2 linked regions of the Homo sapiens genome follow. The protein of the gene in region 1 purifies or fractionates together with the protein of each later gene. This does not show direct contact. Each region holds a gene or a part of one and is shown on either strand. Other genes may lie near its edges.

Region 1 (4,010 bases):
CCCCACATGCTGCCCCTCAGCCACCTGCCAGCCCTGTTTTATGAGTATGTTTACCGTGGCTGTCACTTTGTCCCGGTCTGTCACAAAGGCACGGAATCCTTCCCCAAACAAGGTGCCAGCCGCCCTGTGGGGAAAGCAGTGGTGTGACCAGGAGGGAAACAAAGACCCACGCCACGTAGCAAGAACAGGTTGAGGGTGAGGCCTTGACACAGCAGCCTGGTCCTGCCAGGACAGGGGGGCAGTGTCCCCACCAAGGAGCCAGCCTACAGCGGCCAGACCTGGGAGAGCTGGAGAGCACCCTGGGACCAGCGACTCACACCTGTGGGGGCTCCATCTGCGGCCGGCCCGGGCCTCGGCAGCGCTCACCTGATGGACTCCAAGAAGGTCTGATGGTGCTTCTGCACGGACTCCTCCTGCTTCCGTAAATCCTCATTGACAAGTTGCTGAGAAGAAGCCGCAGAAAAAGAGAAAAGCCTTTAAAACCAGAAAAATGCTCAACACCAATCCAGAGGTTGCGTCCGCCCCAGGACCGCAGGGCTCCAAGCGTCCCGGGCACCTGGGGACCTGCAGACGCCGCACCCTGACACAGACACGGGTGACATCGGCCGGGACGGCAGTCACTGAGGGGATGGGTTCAGGGGCCCAAACTCCCCAGCGGCAGAAACAGCCCCCACTGTGGCTTCCCTGACAAGGGCCACTGCTGGCCGACCTCCCAACACCACTGCCCTGATTCAGGCTGGGCTTAAGGAAGCTTCTGTCTTCTGCCAATTAAACGTTAAAGCTACAATGCCCACAACAGGCAACACGTGAACCCCGCCTGTGAGCTCAGGACTGAAGGTGACCGGCCGGGCACCGTGGCTCACACCTGTAATCCCAGCACTTTGGGAGGCCGACGCAGGTGATCACTTGAGGTCAGGAGTTCAAAACTAGCCTGGCCAGCATGGTGAAACCCTGTCTCTAATAAAAATACAAAAATTAGCCGAGTATGGTGGTGGGTGCCTGTAATCCCAGCGACTTGGGAGGCTGAGGCAGGAGAATGGCTTGAACCCAGGAGGCAGAGGTTGCGGTGAGCTGAGATCGCACCATTGCACTCCAGCCTGGGCAACAGAGTGAGACTCCGTTTCAAAATAAATAAAATTAAAAAATCTTGCTGAGCTGGACGCGGTGGCTCACGCCTGTAATCCCAGCACTTTGGGAGGCTGAGGCAGGCGGAGATCAGGAAATCGACACCATCCTGGCTGACACGCTGAAACCCCATCTCTACTAAATATACAAAAAAAATTAGCTGGGCGTGGTGGCAGGTGCCTGTAGTCCCAGCTCCTCAGGAGGCTGAGGCAGGAGAATGGTGTGAACCCGGGAGGTGGAGCTTGCAGTGAGCCAAGGTCGCACCACTGCACTCCAGCCTGGGCGACAGAGCAAGACACCATCTCAAAAAAAAAAAAAATCCTGCTGAGTCAAAGAAATGAGGTGAGAATGTCAAGAAGATCCAGGCCCTCAGGACGACCAGACGCCCTCACCAACACCGGCCCTCCCTCTCGGGCGGCTCTGCGGCAGCGTCTCTCACCTCCCCTTGTTTCCTTCTGTGAAATGAGGCGCCCAAGCTTGGCCCTGGGCCCCACTGCTGCCCATGTACACACCCCCGGCCCTACCCACCGGCAGTAGCCCTACCAATCTCCACGCCCGAACCCCATGTGTGCCCCGGCCTCCCCGCCCACACCGGCCCCACTCACTTTGAGCTTGGACTGTTGCTCCAACTGCAGCGTCTGCTCCTGCATCTGCGCCAGATTCAGGGCGTCCTTTGACATGGCCTGCAGATGCAGGGACACGGAGGGCAGGTGTTAGGATACACGGATGCCGCTGGGCAGGCACGCACACCAGCCAAGGGGCTTTCTGGAATCCACGGCCACGCCTCGACCTCAAAGCCCCCAGCCCTGCCTCCCCATCCTCCTTCCTAGTCAGACCTGGCGTGACGATGCCCCATCCCCAGCACACGGCCTGATGCATTTGTGAGGTTTTATGCCCTCCAGGGATGGTCTTGGAGAGCCACATCAGGAAGGCCATCCCATGTGGACGGGAGGAGGCTCTTTCCCAATTCAACAGAAAGTCAGGCGATGGCTAAAGTGTCCATTTTTTCACGTTACACATGCTTTTTTTTTTTTTTTTTTTGAGACGGAGTCTCATTCTGGCCCAGGCTGGAGTGCAGTGGCATGATCTCTGCTTACTGCAAGCTCTACCTCTCGGGTTCACGTCACTCTCCTGCCTCAGCCTCCCGAGTAGCTGGGACTACAGGCGACCGCCACCACACCCGGCTAATTTTTGTAGTTTTAGTAGAGACGGTTTCACCGTGTTAGCCAGGATGGTCTCGATCTCCTGACCTCGTGATCCGCCCACCTCAGCCTCCCAAAGTGCTGGGATTACAGGTGTGAGCCACCGCGCCCGGCACATACCCTTTTCCTAAGCTTCCAATGGCTGTTGTCAGTGATCTGCTATCAAGAACGTGCGGGCAAGAAAATGAAAGAATAAGAATTAGATAGCAGCCAACAAGCTCAGGGTGACGAGGACAAGCATCTGACAACGTCCTCAGTTACATTTTGTTCCTAGTGGGGAACCGACACAGGTCAATGTTTGGGTGACCTGGGACAGAAGTACGTATTCTCTGAGCTGCTGAGGACTCAGCATCAGGTCTCAACATTTTCCGGGATGAGTTTTCCCATCACAAAATTTTACCATAAAAATCTTCTGGCCGGGCGCGGTGGCCCATTGAGAAAATATGCAGGACCTTGGGGAGTTAATCATGAAGGGGATTAAAGAATCCATGCCCGGAACCCAGAATCTTACCCGAATATTTAACATACAGCAAGGAAAAGATAAAGGGCCTGCGACATAATTTTTAGACAGATTAAAAGAACAAATGAGAAAATATGCTGGTCGAGGTGTCGAGGATCCTCTTGGGCAAGGAATTTGTCACTAACAGTTGGCCAGATATTAACCACAAATTACAAAAGAAAGAACTAGAAAAATAAGCCTGTAGAAGAGATTCTAAGAGAAAGGGAAAAAAATCTTAGAGGAAAGAGAAAGACTGACAGAAGGAACAGAGAAAGTCAGAGAGAGAGAGAGAGTCAGAGAGAGAGAGAGACAGAGTCAGAGAGACAGAGTCAAAGAGAGAGAAAGACTGACAGAGGGAACAGAGGAAGTCAGAGAGAGAGAGAGAGTCAAAGAGAGAGAGAGACAGGCAGAGACAGAGTCAGAGAGAGAGACAGAGTTAGAGAGTGAGACAGAGACAGACAGAGAGAGACAGAGTCAAAGAGACAGAGAGAGCCAGAGAGAGAGAGAGACAGAGTTAGAGAGAGAGAGAAAAGGAGAGATAGAAGTAGTCAAGAAAAAGCAATGTGCCCCATTCTTTTAAAAGCCAGAGTACGCCCGGCGTGGCAGCTCACCACGCCTGTAATCCCAGCACTTTGGGAGGCCGAGGCGGGCAGTTCAGGAGGTCAGGAGATCATCCTGGTTAACATGGTGAAACCCTGTCTCTACTAAAAATACAAAAAATTAGCCGGGTGCGGTGGTGGATGCCTGCAATCCCAGCTATGCAGGAGGCTGAGGCAGGAGAATTGCTTGAACCCAGGAAAGACAGAGGTTGCAGTGAGCCGACACAGTGCCACTGCACTCCAGCCTCGACGACGAATGAGACTCTGTCTCAAAAAAAAAAAAAAAAACAACTTACCGAAAGGCATGGAGGCCACTGACAACTATCCTTAATGTGGTAACCCACAGACGGCCGTAGTGCATTACAGGACGACACTTATTTAAAGATAGTTCCTCCCAGGTGATTCGAGGAAAAAGACACAATGGGTAATCAGTAACTAACAGGAAAAACTCTTGTGGAAATAGAGTTAAGAGGCCGGGCTCTGTGGCTCACACCTGTAATCCCTGCACTCTGGGAGGCTGAGGCGAGTGGATCACCTGAGGTCAGGATCACCTGAGGTCAGGAGTTCGACAGCAGCCTGGCCAAC
Region 2 (3,500 bases), on another chromosome or scaffold:
CTGCCTGAGGGTGTTCAGCAGCATTGAGGAAAACCCAGAGATCCTCACTTCAGGGGACATCAGCGCAGCAACGCTCTGCCTCGCCATGGAGAGGCCTGGCCTTGGGGGTGGGGGTGCGGGGCTCGGCCTCCCTCCTTGAGCCTCCTTTTCTGAGCAGTTTGGAGTCCGGGGTCCTTGCATCTTGTAGTCCAGCAGTCTTTGCCTTCACACCCTCGGTCCTTTGAAAAGCTATGACAGTACCCTGAGGTGGGCAGGTGGGAACCCGGGGACAGAGGCGTTGGGGGAGAGGAGGGTCTCAGGGCTGTGAAGCATGTGCCAGAAACTGATGGCCACGGCTGTCCTGAGGCTGGCAGGGCGCGCGTGTCCTGCAGCTGTGGAGGATGACAGGTGTTGGGGGCCCACTCAGGCCAACTCCCTCGTTGACTTCCTCTCCCCTTTGAGGTAGGGTCAGGGTGCCCCGGCACTGTGACGAGCAGGCCTCATGCGGCCAGGCCTGGGGGACATGGTGAGGACAGGGCTGAGGGCAGACCCAGGTGGCCTACTCTCCTGCGACCATCTGTGTCATGGCCTTTGCAGGGCTCTGATTTTCTTCTGATCACCCTGGTGTGGATGTTGGCTGGGTTGAGGCTGGCGGCCTGTGCTGTCTGGCGCACTCTTCTGTCCACTGAGAAGGGAGCAGGTGCTATCAATGGAAATGGGACCCTGGCTGTGGGGAAACGTGTGTCGGGATGGAGGCGCTGTGCAGGGCAGGGCAGCAGGTCGGCTGTGTGCCAGGCCCCCGTCATGCTCTGTCCAAGCCAGGATGGGCCCAGCATGTGGTTTTCTGTGCACCTGGTTTCTTTCCAGCCGCTCCCTCCATTCCCAGCTGTCCTGGAGGTGGGTCCTCAAGGGTCCCCCATTCTGTCCTGGCCCCGCCTTTGTGGGCCTTTCTGGTTCTGTGAAGGCCCCCCCCGCCGCCAGCTTGCGGAGGCCTCTGTCCTCTCTGGAGGGTGGAACCTGTGCACCGGGGCCAGCCCCCTGCTCACCTTGGCCTGGCGGTCCCCTCTGTCCCCTCCATCCCCTCTGTCTCCTCTGTCCCCTCTGTCCCGGTGCTGTCCTGGGGCTCTCTAGTGAGGGTGGTCTGTTGTCCTCCCCAGGATGGGCCTGCAGGACCCCTGACGTGGATGCCTCTTGGGGTCTCACCTGCATGGTATCTGAGGCCTTTTGCAGAAGGAGCCTCTGGGTTTGACTGACGGAAGTGTTCACTGTTCTCAGAGAGAAAATGATGAGGAGATGAAGGCTGCCAAAGAGAAGCTGAAGTACTGGCAGCGGCTGCGGCACGACCTGGAGCGCGCTCGCCTGCTGATCGAGCTGCTGCGCAAGCGGGAGAAGCTCAAGCGTGAGCAGGTGGGGCTGGGCCTGTCCCGCGTGGAGTGCACCACTGGCCACGGGGCGTGGGTGGGACGCTGGCAGCTCCTGCAGAGGGTGGGCTGCACCCGGTGGGTCCTGGCCCACAGCAGTGCCTTGCTCAGCCCAGGCTGGGTGCCTGGCTGCCATGGGTTGCAGAGCCCTAAGTGGAGGCTGCGTTGTCCTATGCCTGGACGGAAGCACAGGAGCCTGTGGGGGCTGCTTGTGGCTGTGGGGCGCGTGGTGGGGCTGAGACGCATGTGCGGCTCCCTAAAGCTGAGGCTCTGCTGGGCCCCCCCAGGTGAAGGTGGAGCAGGTCGCCATGGAGCTGCGGCTGACCCCGCTGACGGTGCTGCTGCGCTCAGTGCTGGACCAGCTGCAAGACAAGGACCCCGCCAGGATATTTGCGCAGCCCGTGAGTCTGAAGGAGGTGGGTGTTTGCGGCGCTCGTCTGTCCTGCCGCATGTGTGACTGTGGATTTGTGCTGCCGTTTGACCGGGAAACGTGTGATTGGCTAGAGTACATCCCTTGTGTTCTTAATTCTCGTTTTTATTTAACGTATTTGTTTTTAAATTATAAAAGTGATACATTTCATTGTAAAATACTGAAAGTGCAGTGGGCAAGAGGCCCTGTGCAGACAGTACCCTGGGCTGTGGCAGCATCCGCCCGGCACCCTCCAGCGTGCTTTAGCTGAAGGAGCTGGGGTCGGGAAGGTCCCTGCAGTACTTGGGTCTTATGTCTGTACCGTCTGCGTGTCTGTGTGTGGCTCTCAGATAGGATGGGCTTGTGGGTTATATGGAATAATAAATATAGAGTCAACTAATATCCTGTTTTAGTTTGTAAATGATTCTTTTTCCTCCCTAAAATTAGGTACCAGATTATTTGGATCACATTAAACATCCCATGGACTTTGCCACAATGAGGAAACGGTTAGAAGCTCAAGGGTATAAAAACCTCCATGAGTTTGAGGAGGATTTTGATCTCATTATAGATAACTGCATGAAGTACAATGCCAGGGACACCGTGTTCTATAGAGCCGCGGTGAGGCTGCGCGATCAGGGAGGTGTTGTTCTGAGGCAGGCCCGGCGCGAGGTGGACAGCATCGGCTTGGAAGAGGCCTCGGGGATGCACCTGCCTGAGCGGCCTGCTGCGGCACCGCGGCGGCCTTTCTCCTGGGAAGACGGTAAGAACTGGCGCCGTGTCCGGAGGAGGTGGAAGACGCTCTTTCTAGCAGACTCTGTCCTGCTCTGTGTTGCCAGCTCCCTATCAGCATGGTCCGGGAGCCACTAGCATGCAACCGCATACATCATTTACATTTTCTAGTAGCCTCACTGAAAAATGGAAAAGAAGCAGGTGGAATTTACTTTAATAATATGTCTTATTTTACTCAGTGTATGGAAGAGTTGATTTCAACATGGGATCGGTAAACGTTACTGAGGATATATAAGCTTTTCACCTTCTTTGCCATCTGATGTGTATTTTACGCTCAGCACCTGTCACTTCAGACTGGCTGCGTTTTGGGTGCCCACCAAGAGGACTGTGTGGCTGTGGCTCCCTATGGGGTGGCCGGTCTCGACGATGCAGACCCAGAAAGCAGCTTAGTTGGGGGTTTTCATCCAGAGTGGGCCTCGGCTAACTTCTGAGGGTGGCGTGAAGCCGGAGGATCTCTGGCTTTGCCTCCAGCCCTTTAACTTCGTGGTTTGCGCATGTTGTAGAAAGGGCTCTGGGAGTGTGTCCACGGCCCACCTGGACTCCAGCCTGGGCTTGTGCTTCTTGGTTGCCCAGGCACGTGTTGCAGCCATGTGTAGTCACCTGCACCCTTCTCTAGACTGGTCCTCGGAAACCGGGGCTGTCCCCTGCACCCTGCTTGTTAGTCGCACCTCTGGGATTGTCTGTCGAAGGGTGTGTCCTGCCCACATGGGTTGTCAAAGCACATAGAGCTCCAGCACCTCAGCTCCAGCTCTGAGCCACAAACTGAGCAGAAATCACGGTGTGTTTGGCTTATTTGTCTAAAGGTCCCATATCCCTGATTTCTTGGCCTACCCTTTCTCTTGATGAATCACTGACCCGTGCTAGGTCGCTTCTTCTGGGATGAGGCCTGGCCCTCTTCCTCT

The links. Proteins that work in one complex are often made in the same cells at the same time.
Region 2: the proteins of ATAD3C (region 1) and BRD1 purify together in Homo sapiens (affinity purification with mass spectrometry; one large-scale study listed by BioGRID and IntAct). This does not show direct contact.

What each region holds. Positions count from the first base shown.
Region 1 is NC_000001.11:1,448,479-1,452,488, reverse strand, and holds the start of ATAD3C (ATPase family AAA domain-containing protein 3C), read right to left. Parts: upstream 2,801-4,010; 5' UTR 1,806-2,800; coding exon 1,731-1,805; intron 444-1,730; coding exon 367-443; intron 125-366; coding exon 55-124; intron 1-54.
Region 2 is NC_000022.11:49,796,874-49,800,373, reverse strand, and holds part of BRD1 (bromodomain-containing protein 1), read left to right. Parts: intron 1-1,254; coding exon 1,255-1,386; intron 1,387-1,687; coding exon 1,688-1,816; intron 1,817-2,256; coding exon 2,257-2,569; intron 2,570-3,500. UniProt on the Homo sapiens protein: Scaffold subunit of various histone acetyltransferase (HAT) complexes, such as the MOZ/MORF and HBO1 complexes, that acts as a regulator of hematopoiesis.